Linked DNA regions of Homo sapiens: all the other regions are linked to region 3. A link means that fine-mapping ties the variant in region 3 to the expression of a gene that starts in the linked region. Tissue or cell type: whole blood. Region 3 holds a variant in brackets; each other region holds the start of a gene. All regions are shown on one strand. Distances are between the middles of the regions.

Region 1 (6,255 bases), 220 kb after region 3:
ATTAGTTCTTTTATCATCTCTTTAGAGTAGGAATCGTCTCCAAATCCAATCCCCCTCATCTGTCAAAGGTGAGAAGACTTGGGCTGCAGGTCTAGGCTGATTTCCTTCCAGACATACAGCCACATCTGGCAGCCCAGAGCTGGGTGCCCGCCAGGGCCAAGGTGCCCTCGTCCACAGCCCTGCCTTGGTGCTCACCTCTCATGCCTCTACTCACTGGAGGGTAGCCTCCCCACAAGGCTGGTGACACAGGCCAAGTGGCCTTTGCGAGGACTTGGGCTCAAGTTCACTGGGGGGAGAGGGGTGAGGATCAACTATCAGGAGGACTGGGGGCTTTCACGGCTCCCAAACACCCCAGAAAGTGAGTGAGAGCCCCTACTTCCTCAGGAAGGTTCTGGAACACTGAACTTGCTCAGGAAATCCCAGCTCACCAGGTGACCTGCTCTTCACCATCTCTGCACTTCCAAGAACCCCCTTGCCTTTGAGATCCCCCGCACCACCCACATCCTAAGGCCAGCACCTGCCTGTTTCCATCCTTGCTTAGTCTCTGATGCACACGCACCCACCCCCCACACCCCACACAGCCAGCACTGTGCATTTGAACATGTGGGGCATGAGCTGAAGCCCTTTCTGCAGGCGTTTTGTTCAGTCTCCCCCAATCAGAGTCTGTGGAAGAGATCTCCTTCCTCTCCATTCCCCAGCAGGGTACTGTCCTGAGACACACTCCTGAACCTCTCAGCCACTCCATTGAATGATCTGTGTCACTGGCTCCTGTTATGTGCTATGGGACTCTCTGTACTAGGCATGATATGTGGAATATCTCATCTAATTCTTGCAGATGAAGGGAACAAGGCTCAGAGAGGTTAAGACACCTACCCGTGGTCACACATGGAAAGAACTGGGAATCCACCCCAGCCAACTGGAGGGCAGAGCCCCACCTCAAACTGCTTGGTGTCTGCCATAGCACTGCGCCCAGAGCCCAGCCGCAGAAAATCCCCAGCAATTTCTCCTGAAGACCTGCTGCCTTGGTTACCACGGTCACCCCACGCCTGGCATAGCACTTGCTCCAGTCAAGCTTGCTGAAGACTGGGATGACCGACGGTCCACCTGACTCTGTTAGTGACTGGTGCTCAGGAGGAAAGAAGACATCCAGGAGAGACCTGTGGTCACAACAGGGGAACTTACCAAAAACAGGAGCCACCTTAAATAACACCCAGAGCCAGACTTCCGGTCCTGGCCCACCACGCTCATCTCCTACTCAGCGATCTGAGTGGTGGTGAGGGGGTGAGCGGGACCAGGAGCCAGTGGGCAGGGCTGGTGTCAGCTGCCCAGGAGCAGTGGCCGATGGGAAGGGACACCCTCTGGAACCATTTGATGCCCAGCACAAAGTGAGCCGGGGCCAGAATCCTGGGAGGAGGGGCAGAGGCTGGAGGTAGGTTCATCTGGCTCAACTGCCACCTGCCCATGGGACTGAGGGGGCTGTGGGCAGGCCCAGGATCCACCAGCCACAGCTGTTGGGCTGATAGGAACTGTCTCTGGGGCCATCAGGGTGAGGGAGTCCCCTTACCATCCCTACCCCCACCTAGGGGTCTTCTTGACCCAATGAAAAGTTTAGATTTCCTCCAGTGGAGAGGAGAAAACTATGGCTGGAGACCCCGGGTGTGGGATGTGGGGCACAGGGTTTGGGATGGGGACACACACACACACACACACACACACACACACACGGCTGTTTCTGAAATCATATCCGCCTCTTTTCATGCATTCTCTGGGAGAGGAAGATTCCCTGGAGCTATCCCCAGGCAGCCACATTCTCAGGGAACACAGACTCCCACAGGCTGGGCTCTGGGGGAGGGGGGTGGGTCCACCGACTGCCGTCTTGCTCCTGAGTGCCCACTGAACCCCAGGAAGGGGTCCTGATGCTCCCCTCCCTCTGGTAGGGCAGGCACCATCTGCCTGGGCCTGATGGCAGCCGGGTCGTCAGGGGTTATTATTAGACTCCCTGTCACTGGCGCTTGGGCACCTCACACTGGATCAGGATTCCCTCCAAGAGGCCCTGCTTTGCCCTGATCTGTCCCATATCTGGAGAACTTGACACAGGGAGAGGCCGCCGGGGGCCAAAGTCCTGAGATGGGCGCCTGGCTCTGAATAAATGGACCTCATCCTGGTCCACTGGCCCCAGAATCTTTGACCCAACACAAGGAACTGATACAGGTGGGCTCCCGGGGCCAGAGCAGGCGTGACCAGACCTGAGACGGGCTGGGAGATTCTGCAGCTTTGTTTGTCTGGGCAGGGAGGTCTGGGGAGCCCTGGCCCTGTTTGTGGGGTGCAGAATCCTGCCAAGGGTCAGCAGAGTAGGGAAAGGGCGGGGAAGCCGGGAGTGACTGCCCTAGGCCAGAAATTCAGGGCTTAAAGGTGTGAGGTAGAGAGAGGGGCGTGGGGGAACAGGAATGGGCCAGTCTAGGACCAGGGGACACAGAGAAGCTGACTGTCAATGCAAGGGGGTCCTCAGGACAACAGTGTGAGATGGGCTGACGGAGGCCACCTTCCTTCCCTGGAACAAGCGCAAGCAGCTGTGGGTTCTCTGCGCTAGAGGGGAAGTGACCCACACCGCTTCCCCAAGCCCTGCAGCCTTCCAGCTGAGACTCCCACCCTGCAGGCCGGGGCTGGGGAGGAGGGGTGCTGCGAAGACCGACTCGGGAGACTCTACTCAGTTTCTGCCAAACTTTCCTAGGCCACTCAGCCCCGGAAAGAGAGCGCCCCATCTTGGAATCTCAGACGGTCGAAAACTTCGGGGCACCCCTCAGCATCCCCGCACCTCGCGCGCCAGGATTACCCCGAGACGAATGCCCCTGTCCTTACCCCTCCCCCGCGCCGCCCTGCCCGCTCAGCGTTCAGCCCCTCACCCCGCAGGCGGTCTTGCGCCCTTCCTCCCCTTCCCCACGCTCGCTTCACTCTGATCTCTTCAGTTTTCCCGGCCCCCAGGTTCCCAGACAGGAGGGGACGCGGGCCACGGGCCTGGGAGGGTGGGGGAAAAGGGGAGAGGGGAGACGGGAAAGGGCTGCGCGGGGAGAGAAGGGGTCTGAGAGGCACGTGGGAAAGTGCAGGCTCTCGAGGGGAGAGGGGGTAGTGCGGGGACTTGGGGCGCGCGTGGCTGCGGTCTGGGGCGGCGTAAACTTACCTCCTGGTAACTCTCGTCGCCGGGGCTGAAGGTGCTGTTCACGGGCTGCAGGCGCAGGCCGACGTGCGGGACGCTGTGCAGCCACACGACCCACCAGGGAGCGATGTAGTCCACGCGCGCCGCCTGCATGGCTCGGCCCGAGTGCTACCCACAAGCTGAACGACAGCTGCGCTCACCTCCCGGCCGGGGCCCCGTGCCCGCCCCGCCCCCGGCCCCGCCTCTCCCTGGGCCCGCGCCCGCCCCGCCCCGCCGCGATCCCAGTCCCAGTTCTGGGCGCGCAGCCCGCTGCAGTCAACAGCCCCTTTCTGGGCGGGGATCTGTCCTGGCCGGATGGGAGGAGGGAAGTGAAAAAAGCTCCCAGAAGTCTCTAAATCAGTTTCAGTCTCGAGGTCCCCGGGCTGCTTCTTATTTATGATCAGATCAAGGGTATAAGGTGTCAGTGGGGGCAGCCAGCAGTCATAGGCCAGAGAGGGGCGACTGCCCGTCCCAAGGGCTTGTCACAGGGTAAGTAACCGACAGACTGGGAAAGGAAGGAGGCAATCTTCAGCCACTCGGTCACTCATTCTAAATTCACTCTCATTTTTTGGGCATCTATTGTGCAAGCCCTGTGGACTTAAAAAGAGAAATAAGACGCCGTCCCTGCCCTCGGGAGCTCCCGGCGCATCTGCCCCAACAACTCGCTGAAGCCGCCTGCAGGACGCCTGAGTGAGGACAAGGTGTCTCACTCAGAAAATTTGCTTGATTCTTCCTGGCAAGTGGGACAGGGTGAGCTTCCCGGAGGAGGGGACCTTCGAGCTGTGTAGCGGGGAAGGTAGGAGAGCGATGAGAGCGCCCGGAAGGGACAAGCATTCGGGGAGACTGAAGCGCATTCAACAACATATTTATTGAGCACCTACTACGTCCAGGCACTGTTACATCGGTGATGTAACAAAAGCCGACAAAAACCCTCACCCCGAGCGCAGGCACCGCAGAGGGCGATGACGACCCGAGAAGATGCCGAACGCAGGCCAGGAGGGGGCTCTGGGGAAAAGCAAAGGCAGGGGAGGTTGCCCATCGGGGAGCCTCGCGTCCCTGGGCCCTCCGTACTCTGCACATATGCAGAGGCCCCCACCCGTCCTGTAACCGCAAACTGCTTGGCGTGACTTGGCCAGCGGAGGGAGGAGCCCAGGCTGCAGGACAAGCAGGAGTCAGGGGTAGGTGCGGTGGAGTGATGGGGTCGCGGCAGATTGGGCGTGGAAACCGCGCTGGGCAGCCAGCCTGAGGGGTGCGTATCCACCGCGGCAGGGACGCGGGTGAGAAAGGAGCCCCGGGAGGACGGGGCGGGGCTCCTAGGGTTCTGGCTGAAGGGACCGGGTGGATGCGGACCGACTGAAAACGCTCGCAAACACATATGGCTGCTGGGGAGTGGGGCCCCAGTCACCCGGTGCTCAAAGGCCCTGTGTCCATTAGAGGAAGTCCTGGCCTCGGGGCCTCTCCTCGTGGCCGTGATCCCACGGTTCTGGGGCCCTGCAGGAGCCCAAAGCTGAGGGGCCCGGAAGGCTGGAAACAGCCATTCTTCTCTCATTGGGGTGTCTTTCAACAAATTTTCTTGAGCACGTTCTCTGTTCTAGAGGATACAGTAATGGATAAAACACACGTTCCCGCCTGCATGGCGTCTACAGCCTAGTAGGCGAGGTGAGGTGGACTTGTATCCTGCAAACAGCGATTGCAGGCCTTGTGAAATGTCAGAGTCCCTGCTGTAGGGAGAGGGGATGGAAGGTGGGCGTCAGGGTTGTTTCCCAAAGGACAGTGACATGAGCTGAAGGATGATCGGGAGTCAAAGAGGGGGGTGCTGGGGGAGGCCTCTGTGCAGAAGGAACAGGACCCTGTGAGATCAGGGACTAAGGCCAGTGGAAGGGGAAGCAAGCAAGTTCCAGAACAGGACAGGGAGCCGGAGAACTGCAGGAGCCAGGCGATCAGCTTGGAGACTGCGGCAGGGGAGGGAACTTCTTTGGGTGAAAACCTCCTTTTAAAAGGTCTTGGTCTCTGACTCAGTCCCTGCAGTTGCTGGGGAAAGTGGACTCTTCTGGTAGCTGCTTTTACAGCCCCTGCCCTCAGAGGCCCCCCAGGTGGGAAGGGCCTGCCTCCTAGGCAGTGGGTGGTCACCGAGGACTGACTTTGAACCCGGGGCAAGGGAGCCCCAGAAGGCTGGAGGCCTGCACACGGCACTGGAAGAAACAAACTGCAAAGGCTGTCCCTCAGGGCTATCTCCACAGCCACCGGAATGCGGCCTGGAATATCCAAACCTGTCAGCCCACCTGCACCCAGCCAGACAGCGACCATTCTAGCTGCTTCCCCGGAGGCCTGCTGACCCAGAGAGGTGTCAAAAAGCTGAAGCACAACAGACAGACCTCCCACAGACTCAGCAGGGAGTTGGAGGACAGTCGGCACACCAGCAGCTGTAGCCCATCACCTCCCCCCTCCCCATTCACCTGGTATGCAGCACTTAAGGGCTTGCTGAAGCCCCAGCAAAGCAGAGGCCCACCTGAGAGCTTGGAAACACACCTATGCCCCAGACCACCGCAATCGCAATCTCCAGTCAGCCCTGGCCACCACAGTGAACTGCCTAAGTGCCCCAGATGACTGAGTCACAAGCCAGGGCTGGGAAGCACTGCATGAAAGGCGGCCTTCTCTAGACAAGGCTGGACACACCCCTGCAAGGCCTGTCTCCTAGGAGCTGGGATGAAACTCTGGACGATGTGCTGGGAACAAAGAAAACCCACATGGTAAAGGCTCGCTTTTCCTTGGGAATCTGCAATGCTTACAGAACGGGAAAGGCTGAAAGCCGCCCACAGTGCCGCACCTGGGCCTGAGGGCTGGTGTACCCACCCTCTCCCGGAGGAAACAAGACCCGTGACCAGACTCAAAACCACCTCACACCCTCACAATCCTTACAGAATATTCAAAGACTGGCACTTCAACCTTACAACCTGAGCACGTCTAAATGCCTAACACAATACCAAGCACACTGTATGCCACGCTTTTAAAAGGTAGAGATCTTAAAAAAACAAAAAACACTACCTCGGGTATGAAGACAG
Region 2 (6,255 bases), 230 kb after region 3:
AAGGTCAAATATGCAATAGCAGACCCACTTGTATGGGGTATCCAGAGCAGTCACATTCAGGGACAAATTGGAAGGTGGTTGCCAGGGGCTGGGGAAGAATGGGGAGCTGGTGTTTAACAGAGGGAGTTTCAGTTTGGGAAGATAAAGTTCTGGAGATGGGCGGTGATGGTGGCAGCTGCTCAACAATGTGTATTTACTGAATGCCACTGAACTGTACAATTATGCTTTGTTGCCCAGCCCGGAGTGCAGTAGCATAATCGTGGCTCACTATAGCCTCAATTTCCTGGATTCAAGCAATCCTACCTCAGCCTCCTGAGTAGCTAGGACCACCAGCACACGCCCGGCTAACTTTTTTCTTTTATAGAGACAGGGTCTCACTATGATGCCCAGGCTAGTCTCATCCATCTGCCTCAGTCTCCCAAAGTGCTGGGATTACAGATGGGAACCACCATACCCAGTGTAAATGGTAACTTTTACGCTATGCCTATTACACGTTAAAAATTAATACAACCATTTTAAAAAGTTTTTTCAACAAACAGCTACTGACACTTTACTGTCCCCAGGGGACTGTGACCACTACCTTTAAAGCCACATCATCTAAAATGAAGGTTCCCAATTTTTTTTGTGAGACAGTCTCGCTCTGTCACCCAGGCTGGAGTGCAGTGAGACAATCTCAGCTCACTGCAACCTCCGTCTCCTTGGTTCAACTGATTCTCCTGCCTCAGCCTCCTGAGTAGCTGGGACTGCAGGCGTGTGCCACCATGCCTGGCTAATTTTTTTATTTTTAGTAGAAATGGGGTTTTGCCATGTCGCCCAGGTTGGTCTTGAACTCCTGGTTCAAGCGATCTGTCCGCTTTGGCCTCCCAAAGTGCTGGAATTATAGGCATGAGCCACCACGCCCGGACCACCACCCTTTTAAAACACAATCAAACGGTGGTGTCGTGTTTAACTTGCTGAGAAGGGTAAGTTACCTGCAGGTAGAGTTGGGCTTCAAACTAGGCAGTGACCCCATATGGTCTGAAATAAAACTGACCTGATAACCTCATCTCTTTACACAAAACACTAGCCAACAGTCATCATTCCCACCAGATGCTATTTGTCCCCACAGGTGGTCACTACCTCAAAGGTGACAGCCTGTTTTGGGTAATGGGGACACAAATATGACCCCCATCTCTGCCTACCCCCAACTCATTGAAAGACTCTCCCTGTACACCAACCACCGTCTGGCACCACGGCTGGCAGAGCATTAGAGACGGCTGGTGTCTTAGCCCACCTTAACAGGCCTGTCCCATGCAACCTCACTTCCACATGTGACCTGATTCTCAGTCAGCTGAAAAAAGATGACTGGGTTAAAGTAACAACATAACTCAAGACCTAGCTTGTATCAAACACAAGCCCCCCCAATCTCCTTCAAGTATCACAAAGGAGTAACACAACTACCTCTCACACTTGGTGTAAAAATTTAAGTAAGTGGGCAGCAGAGATTGGCACCTATCCATCGAAAACCTGCTGTTTAAGGTTTTTCATTAATCACCTTCTTTCCCCTGTATGTACAAGCTGGGAAACAGACCTATGACAGTCCAACTTAAACTCTGTGACTTTACAATGGTGGTAATGCGATATACATTCAGTAGAAGCCCTGCTTCAAATTTTGATCTTGGCGGGGCACAGTGGCTCACACCTGTAATCCCAGCACTCTGGGAGGCGGAGGCAGGTGGATCATCTGAGGTTAGGAGTTCGAGACCAGCCTGGCCAACATGGTGAAACTCTGTCTCTACCAAAAACACAAAAATCAGCTAGGCATGGTGGCGCGCCCAGCTACTTTGAGGCAGGGGGATCGCTTGAACCTGGGAGGCGGTAATTGCAGTGAGCCAAGATCGCACCACTGCAATCCAGCCTGGGCGACAGAGCCAGACTGTCTCAAAGAAAAAAAAAAATTTTTTTAAATATTTTTCTGGATTAGATAGGTATGATACCTTCTGACACTGGCCAGCGACCACAGGATCACGAGGTAAACGACCATACTACACAGTGTGCCGTGCTCGATACATTACATGCAAATATCCAGCACTTTATTACAAAATGGATTTTGTGTTAAGATTTTGCACAACTGCAGAGAACCTAAACAGTGTTTATGGGACGTGTGTTTTGAGGCTTTCGCGGAGTGGAGATTCCGTTCCGACAATTTACTATATTATACGAAAGAAAACTGAACTCAGGGCGGCCTCTGAGATGATCGCGATTAGCTAAAGATGGTCCTAGAAATTCCAGGGCCTCAACGTGCCCCCCACAGGTCTTTCTCATGGGAAACAGGATGAAACCACTGCTCCCAGAGGGCCAGGCACACACCCAGACGGCCTAACCGTCTCCTGCCTGACATTCCGGGGAAGACGCTCCCGGAGCGGTGCCAGGCTAGGCACCGCTCTTCTTGAACCTTCGGAGCAACCACTTACATTTGGCATCCTTTCGTCGGGCTGTGAGCAGGAAGTCCTTGATTTCCTCAATTTTCCGAGGCTGCAACACAAAGGAAGCGGGTGAACAGAGAGGAAAGAGACACGTCTCCCGGCGATGGCCCAGTCCACCAGCTTCTCCCGGCCTCAGGAGATCCTTGGGAGGCTCTCTCGCCCTCGCCCCGGGGCCCCACGAGCCCACCCCGGGAAGGCGCCAGGCAGGGACTGTACTCACCATGGCGACGAGGCGCGCTGGGCTCTGGCGCGGACCAGGACCTGCGGGAAACAGTCCTCGGCGTTAACACGGCGCGGGGGCTGGCAGCGAACCCCGTTTTCCCGCTCTCCCCCGAAATATCGGCCCCATCGCACTCCCCTTCTCCTCCCCGACACCCTCCACGCGGACCTGGGGTCCCCAGATTTCACCTGGCAGTGGATTGCCCCAGATTACCTTTCTCACCCACGTATCACCCTAGAGACACTCACAGCAAGCAGCAACCGGGGAAAAGGACGAAAAAGAACGAGACTTCCGTTTCCGGGCAGTTAAACCCTCCCAACGGAGGAAACTGGGTACGGTGCCTGCCGAGGATCAAGACTCATGTAGGCGTTCGCACTTCCAATTTCAGCAGCCCTGCCCCCTTGTGGTCGAAGTCAACAGTGCAGCTCCAAGAATGGAATGGACCATCCTGGCTGCCGCCCTCCCTCCGCCTCCCTCCTCTCGCTCCTCCCCATCCCTTCCTCCTAGGACCCCCGCCTCTTCCCCGTCCACCCCTTCCTGTCTTCCCCCGCAACCCCTCAGACCCCAGCCTGGCTTTGCTAGGTTTTAGCTCAGATTCAGTTTGAAGAGCTAACGCTTATTCTCCACGGCTTTCATTGGACCTGCGCAGGGGCATCCACACAGAAAATTCTTCATTCAATGGCAGGGACCCTCGTGTGCACCTTGTAGAACCTGTTGTTCTGGCGCCTCACGTTTTCTTCCCGTCTCCTTTTTGGCACCTGAACCTGTCATGACCAGGGCCCTGGGCTCTTCTTTCCATAAGAGGGAGCGTTCCTGCTTGCTGCTTCCAATTCCCTTAGGAATTGGTGTACAATGAAAGCAAGTTAAGGCCGGGCGCGGTGGCTCACGCTTATAACCCCAGCACTGGGGGAGGCCGAGGCAGGCGGATCGCTTGAGGCCAGGAGTTCGAGAGCAGCCTGGGCAACCTAGTAAGACCTCCCCCCCCCCATCTCTAGCAATAATGATAATAATAATAATACTTCCAAAAGCTGTCGCAGCGCTGCCCCTGGCTAAGTGTCTCACCCCTAGGGCTGATGGTGAGTGGGAGTGCTCCTGCTCTTGCGGGGTCTCACCGCGGCCCCAGAGGGGAGAGGTGGACTCAGGAGTTGAACCCCTGCTGGGCAGATTCCCCAGCCCAGGCTCCGGCCACTTCCTGGGGAGGCTTGGGAAGCCTGGGGAGGGCAGCGTTCCTTTCTCCCCCTAACATCCTTTAGGTTAGACTCTGAGCAACCTGCGGTTATCGATTTTATTTTTATCCTCCATTTTTATTTTATCTCCAACCTCCCTACAAATGTCTACATTTTATTATATTTGTTTCCCCAAAATTTAATAACCACACGGCAGAATGTAATTGCTTCGTGCTTATTATTACAGAGCGGCCCTCCTGAAGGGAAAGAACACTTTGCCATGAGCTTTACTTAGAACTTATTTAACTTAACCTTCCTTTCTTCCTCCCTCCTGCCCTTCCATTAACAAGCTCAGGCTGAGCACCTTCCTGGGGGTGCTGGAGATACAGGAACCAATAGACCTTGCTGCAGAGAGATCACAAAAATATTGTAATAACACTGAAGAGTCTTTTAAAGAAGCTGAACGATGTCTCTGCAACTGTAAATGTGTCGGGGTTCTAGCAGTGGGAAAAGTTAATTGGCAGAAGCCTAATTTTAGATGTCTGAAGGTCGGATCCGATCTGAGAAGCACGAGTGCTTCAGCTCTGACCTGAGAAGGATTTTCCCATACCTCAGAGCCCGGCTTTGCCAGCCCTTCCCATCTCAGGCGATGCCTTTCTGGTCTTTTCTACCCCACTGCTCCTCCACAAGCAACCACCCTTTCAGCCAAGCCGAGGGGCACTTTTGGGCACTTTCTGCCCTCCAGGTATTTGCTCTGCTGTCCACTCTGATGCCAAGTGCCACTGGTCCTTCCGAGCTCAGCTCCCGCCTCCCCTTTTTCAGGCAGGACCCTTCACCCTTGACTTATGTTGCTTGCCGCTCATACAGTGGTTCCTTGCAATCACTTCTCCGTAGGCTGCGTGGAGGTGTTTAACTTTTCATACATGCGCACCACTCTTTTTATTTTTAATTTTTTAAAACTTTTTTAGAGACATGGTCTCCCTAGGTTGCCCAAGCTGGTTTCGAACTCCTGGGCTCAAGGGATCCTCCTGCCTCGGCCCCCCAAAGTGCTAGGATAACAGGTGTGAGCCACTACGCCCCACCTTACCACTTTTCCTTGAAGGCAAGGACAGGGCTCAGCATTCTGTCGATAACTCTCGAAGTGCAGTACCCATCTGTACAGTAAGTGCTCAATGCTAACATTGCAGGATGATCCGGCTGGATGCGGCATCTGAGATCACTCACCATATAAAGGGGTGGTGGATGGAGGGAGGAATTCAGGGAGAGCCAGAAGGAGACACTGACGTGCCTGAAGCAGTGCCTGGCATGTAGTAGGTCCAAAAACTATTTGTTGAATGAATGACTGGTGCTTCTTGCCTCACTGCCGGCCCGACAGGACAAGGACGGGGATAGAAGGAGGAGCTGCACCTCCCTTTTGGCAGCGATCCCAGGGAGACAGATGTTCACCCTCTTGAGTTGTATAATTTAAGGGACCATAGACGTGTAGTAGCAAAACACAATGGCAAATTTGTTCAAGTACCAAAGACCTCCAGCTCCCCAAGGGGGACAAATAGCAAAATAAGCTGCAGCTACTAAAAGTGAGGCAAGGTGCCCAGAGGGCACGCTTCCCTGCTCCATGGGAAGATGAGCCCCAAATGTCCTGGAGTGGCCGGGGACTGTCAGAGACCAAGGGGGGCAGAGCCTAGGCCCTGAGTGCCACAGCCTGAGACCTTGAGCAGATGCTGACCTGGACATGAGCCTCCCTGATGACTCCCATATACACATGAAACAAAACTCTCCAGGGCCTAGGGTGGATCCTGCAGGAGAGGAAAGCCCCGGACTCGAGGGCAGGATGGCCCAGGCTGCCTGTTATGGTCGCTCTGGCCATTGGTAGGCTGGAATGTCCAGTGCTGGCAGCTGTGGGATGGTGAGGGCTATTGCTGTTGTCAAGAGGCGGTAGGGAGGGTCTCAAGCAGTGTGTTGCAGCATGGCTGGAGGCAGGAGAGGCTCAGAGGGCATGTCCGGAGCTACAGGACACAATCCAACCCTTTTCCTTCCTTCCCTTCCCTCACTCTGCTGGCTCTGGGCAGAGAGGGCCTCAGAAGTCACCGGGCCTCCCCTCCTCCCTCCAGCAGCCCCACTCTGGCCACCTCTGAAGGCCAAATGGTTTAGAGTTCTCTCTTCAGTTTTCAGGGACACATTGGAAAGAGGACCAGGATGGGTCAAAAAAACCCCAATGCCCCAGCTCGCAGGTGGGCAGAGGGCTGGCACGGCACATGGCTGGGAAGACTTCCCAACCTCCAGGATTTTCCCCCATTCAATCCATTCCGTTCACTTGGTGAACATCGGGCTGGGCTTGGGAATAAGCAGAATGCGGTTCCTGCTCCAAACACTCATGACTGTTGGGATCCCATAATAAGCTGTG
Region 3 (5,000 bases):
CCTAAATCCACAGCCAGTCAGCTATGTGTTCATTCATTCATTCAATAGACTTAACAAGCAGCTGCAGCAGGCATAACCAACAGCCAGGAAAAATGAAGAGACAGTCATTTTCCCACTTTTAGTGCCAAGTCTCCAGTTCAGAATCCTCCATTTTTTGCCTAGCTCGGAAGCGGAAGTCAAGGGTGAAATAAACGAAGTCCCCAGCTAAGGAGTTAATGACTTAATGCAAAAATTTTCCTTCGGAGCATTAACATTTTAAAAGTAAGAACCAGGCAAGGGCAATGCAAAACCCAAAGGAATTAATCTTTAATAGAAGACTTTAAGACGTTGTAGCTAGAAGGCAAGAAAATTAGCTTTTATTAACACCAGCAAGGTAATTTTCACTCCATCTACTGACTGCCGCTCTACCAAATGCCACAGATCTGTGCCAGAGAAGAAAACCAAACTCCTGCTCCCAATACCAATTGGATTTTCCCACGTGAAGTGGAGGTAATGGATTTAACAGGTTAAGAAATATTAAAGACCAAATCAATGAGTTTTTTTCCAATCAAAAGTTTTAAATGTACTTGGAGGAAACCTAACACTGAAAATTTAAATGCTGCTGGGCACGGTGGTTCATGCCTATAATCCCAGCACTTTGGGAGGTCAAGGTGAACAGATTGCTAGAGTCCAGGAGTTTGAGACCAGCCTGGGCAACATGGTGAAACCCCGTCTCTATAAAAAACACAAAAATTAGCAGCTGGGTGCAGTGGCTCACGCCTGTAATCCCAGCACTTTGGGAGGCCAAGACTGGTGGATCACTTGAGGTCAGGAGTTCGAGACCAGCCCGGCCAAAATGGTGAAACCCCGTCTCTACTAAAAATACAAAAATTAGCCGGGCGTGGAGGTGCACGCCTATAATACCAGCTATTCAGGAGGCTGAGGCAGGAGAATTGCTTGAGCCCGGGAGGTGGAAGTTGCAGTGAGCCAAGACTGCGCCACTGCACTCCAACCTGATCAATAGAGTGAGACTCTGTATGAAAACAAACAACAACAACAACAACAAATATATATATATATATATATATATATATATATATATATATATATATGAATTAGCAGAGAGTGTGGTGGCATGCACCTGTAGTCTGAGCTACTTGGGAGGCTGAGGTTAGAGGATCATCTGAGCCCAGGGGATCGAGGCTGCAGTGAGCTGCGATTGCACCACTGCACTGCAGCCTGGGCAACAGAGCGAGACTGTTTCCAAAAAAAAGAAAGAAAAGAAAAGAAAAGAAAAAGAAAATTTAAATGCTTAAAGAAACAGGTTATACGTTTCAAAATTCTATGAATGCAGGTAGTCCACATTTAAGTCACCCCACGTGTTCAAATAACTAGTTGTAACCCAGCTTCATCAGGAACTCTCTGGGAAAACAGCAACCAAGCTTTCCTGGTCTGACAGTGACCACTAGTGGCTGGCAGGGGAATGGCATTATCTAACTCTCTTCTGTGAGGCTGCCACCCTTTTTCCTTTTTTAGGGGGATTGTGAGGTTGTTTATACATGGTTTACCTCCTTACTGTTTTCTACCATTCCTGGCTACTTAATTTCTAATAGGCAAACAAAAGCCCTAAATCCCACAGTTGATAGAAATTGTCCCTCTTTTCAACACAGAAGCAAAAAAAAAAAAAAATTCTGTCCATAATTGTTATGTGAAAGAACACTTACTAAATCAGGGGCAATGCAACTCATAAAATTAAGTGAAATGGACACAATAAAGAGGATCCATTTTCAAAGTCCCTTCAAATAGTCTCCATGCCACTTGAAAATATTTAGGTCGTCTTAGCCATCTCAGCTACCTCATCTTTCAATTAAGCTTGCTTAAGATTAACTCTTAAAATTAACTATCTCATGTAAATGTACTGTTGTTTTCCTAAATAACTGGCGTTCTAATGGCTAGTTTCTCTTTACTTCTAATGCAGGACTTAAATAAGCTTCTGTAGGGGACTTTGTAAATCAATAAAGCACCAACTGCATTTTATTTACAAGTGCTGGAAAGAGGAGTAAGAGAGGGCTAAGAGGTAAGGAGTAGGCTGGGTGCGGTGGCTCATGCTGTAATCCCAGCACTTTTGGCGGGCAGATCACGAGGTCAGGAGTTCCAGACCAGCCTGACCAACATGCTGAAACCACGTCTCTACTAAAAATACAAAAATTAGCCAGGTGTGGTGGCGTGC[G/A]CCTGTAATCCCAGCTACTCAGGAGGCTGAGGCAGAAGAATCCCTTGAACCTGGGAGGCAGAAGATTGCAGTGAGCCGAGATTGCGCCACTGCACTCCAGCCTGGGTGACGGAGCGAGACTCCATCTCAAAAACCAAAAACAACAACGACAACAACAACAACAACAAAAAAGGGAAGGCGTAATATGGACCCACTCCTGGGAGATAATTTATGGATAACAACAAGCTGTGGGATCCTAAATGTTCAACTTCATCTTGGGCTCCACAGCCAAACCAGCCAGAACTTGGGCTTGAAGCTGGACGTAGGGAAGAGAACCCTCAGAACTGCCACTTAGACTCCGGACACCTGCACTTTCAAGGGCTTTTCACCCCACCTCCCTCGGCCAGGGCCCAGTTTAGAACAGGCAATTACTCCAAATCAGCAAATATTGACTGTGCGCCTGGGAAGGAAAGGCCCTGTTGTTCCCAGAGCTGTGGAAAATACAAACATGAACAAACGTAGTCCCTGACTTGATGGCATTTAAAATCTATCAAGAGAGATAAGGTAGGTACTCACAAAAATTACACAAGGAAGAATATGATTAAGGGCCACACAACGGAATTTACCTGCAGGAGAGAGACAGGGGCTACAGGAACACAGAAGAGAAACAGGCAGAGTAGAGAAAGACTGTTCCGCAGAGTTTTACTCAGAATCTAATAAAAAAACATACCAGGTCCCAGACACTGCCAAGAGACAGGGACACCCAAAAGCTAAGCCCTGAAGAATGTGAGGAAGGACTGAGCAGGTGAAGGGAACAAGGAGAGGGACGTGCAAGGCAGAAAAGATGGTGTGAATCAAAGCCCTTTGAGCCCAAGTCCAGAGCAAGTTAAAAAAGAATTCAGTTTGCCAAGTATCAGCTGAGTCTGCAAAGGGAGGCTGCAGCTGCTGGCTGACACATTGGAAATGCTACAGGGGTGGGGCTGGGGGCATTATCCTAAAGGCAACAGGCAGCCACTGAAGGCTGCTTTTAGCATCATGGGGGCATAGCCAGGGTTGCGCTTTTAGGAAAAGAGTCTGGCAAAAATGCACAGGCAATCGATTTGTTGGGGGGCACATTCATTCCAGTTTAAAGGTCAAGGCCAAAGGTAAAGCCATAATGGCCAGCTCTGAAAGATCCTTTCCAAAAAACAATCGAAGGACTGGTTGGATGGCGGAGGTGGGGGAAAAGGATACTAAAGCCCATACTACAAGTTCAAATCTAACAGGCATGTCATTACAGAAAACCAAGCCAGGGACCAATGTCACTCATTCTTCTTGATCCATCTTGCCCTAGAAATACTTGCCTGTACCCTGCTGGCTCCAAGAAGCCCACAGGCACTTGGGCTAGGGTCAGGAAAGCTTCACAGCTCTCTGTCCCTAAGCCCCCACCTCCAGTTTCCCCCTGATTTTGTGGTTGGTGACCAGCAACTTCCTTCTGCACCTGACCCTTCAAGTCTTGCTTCTCCTGCCAACCCCCTCAATATAGAAACTTTCAAGGAATGAGAGAGGAGCCTGTACCTGCCCCTCACCGCATCCAGGTACCATGCTGCTGCCCAGCAGCCAGGCTGCTGCTTTTAGTAAGTTGCTGAGTAACTTAACAGCCTCAGAGGAAACAACCTGGTCCCATCCTGAAATATCTTATTTCTCTGGTTCCCCCAGAAATGGAAGGGCAGGTGGGAAGACAGAAATACATGGACTCAGGTGGGAAACCTGGGCTTTCTGGGCGTGGCTCTCATCCACTGCCTAGGACAGGGACCCTCAGAGAGTTAAAGAGAAGCTCAGAAGAGCACAGCTCCAGCCCTCTGATGCCGGGAGTGCACATTCAGCCAATGCCTTTTTTTTTTCTTTTTTTGAGACGGAGTCTCGCTCTGTCGCCCAGGCTGGAGCGCAGTGGCGTGATCTCGGCTCACTGCAAGCTCCGCCTCCCAGGTTCATGCCATTCTCCTGCCTCAGCCTCCCGAGTAGCTGGGACTACAGGCGCCCGCCACCACGCCCGGCTAATTTTTTCTATTTTTAGTAGAGACGGGGTTTCACCGTGTTAGCTAGGATGGTCTCAATCTCCTGACCTCGTGATCCGCCCGCTTCGGCCTCCCAAAGTGCTGGGATTACAGGCGTGAGCCACTGCGCCCAGCCTTTTTTTTTTTCTTGAGACGAAGCTTCACTCTTGTTGCCCAGACTGGAGTGCAATGGCATGATCTCGGCTCACTGCAACCTCCAACTCCCAGGTTCAAGCAATTCTCCTGCCTCAGCCTCCCGAGTAGCTGGGATTACAGGTGCCCACCACCATGCCCAACTAATTTTTGTATTTTTAGTAGAGACAGGGTTTCACTATGTTGGCCAGGCTGGTCTCAAACTCCTGACCTAAGGTGATCCACCTACCTCAGCCTCTCAAAGTGCTGGGATTACAAGTGTGAGCCACCGTTCCCGGCCCAATGCCACCTTTTAAGATGGTGGCTAAGGGACTGACAAGATGGACTCAGCTCTGGTCAGAGGCTTTTCCTCAGGACCCTGGAGGAAACTTCTGCCTCCTGTGGGTCCCCAGACCCTGCACTAAGACTGAGCCTTCTGATCCCTGAACGTTCAAATCATGTCCGTGTCTCCCCTCCAGGGCTGTAAGGTCTTTGAAGCTGGTGAACAAGACTTCTAGAATCCACTGCCACAGCTGGTGCTGTGCCTGAACACAGTGGGCATTTGGAAGTCACCTCTGGATGGTCCCAGGTGCATTTCTCCACACCCAGGGTTGTCCCCTCCATGTTGGAGTTGCATCTTCTGC

What was found. PIP is the estimated chance that this variant, and not a neighbour inherited with it, causes the effect.
Region 1: TTYH2 starts here. The variant in region 3 is fine-mapped to the expression of TTYH2 in whole blood (INTERVAL, PIP above 0.99).
Region 2: RPL38 starts here. The variant in region 3 is fine-mapped to the expression of RPL38 in whole blood (INTERVAL, PIP above 0.99).

Annotation. Positions count from the first base shown.
Region 1 is chr17:74,210,640-74,216,894 of GRCh38, reverse strand. It overlaps TTYH2 (tweety family member 2), which reads right to left and starts at 3,324. Exons shown (of 14, transcript NM_032646.6): 1 at 3,179-3,324. The coding sequence starts at 3,307. It overlaps MGC16275 (a long non-coding RNA gene), which reads left to right and starts at 3,574. Exons shown (of 2, transcript NR_026914.1): 1 at 3,574-4,371; 2 at 5,213-6,255. It overlaps RPL38 (ribosomal protein L38), which reads right to left. Exons shown (of 5, transcript NM_000999.4): 5 at 6,240-6,255. RefSeq lists an enhancer at 980-1,029 and a silencer at 3,288-3,447.
Region 2 is chr17:74,200,389-74,206,643 of GRCh38, reverse strand. It overlaps RPL38 (ribosomal protein L38), which reads right to left and starts at 2,966. Exons shown (of 5, transcript NM_000999.4): 1 at 2,899-2,966; 2 at 2,686-2,726; 3 at 2,454-2,514. The coding sequence starts at 2,688. RefSeq lists enhancers at 1,210-1,713, 1,714-2,218, 3,227-3,730.
Region 3 is chr17:74,434,298-74,439,297 of GRCh38, reverse strand. All of the region lies in intron 1 of GPRC5C (G protein-coupled receptor class C group 5 member C), which reads right to left. Among named protein-coding and RNA genes, the nearest start is that of GPRC5C, 4.7 kb to the right of the region's middle. The variant G/A (reference allele first, on the strand shown) is at 2,210.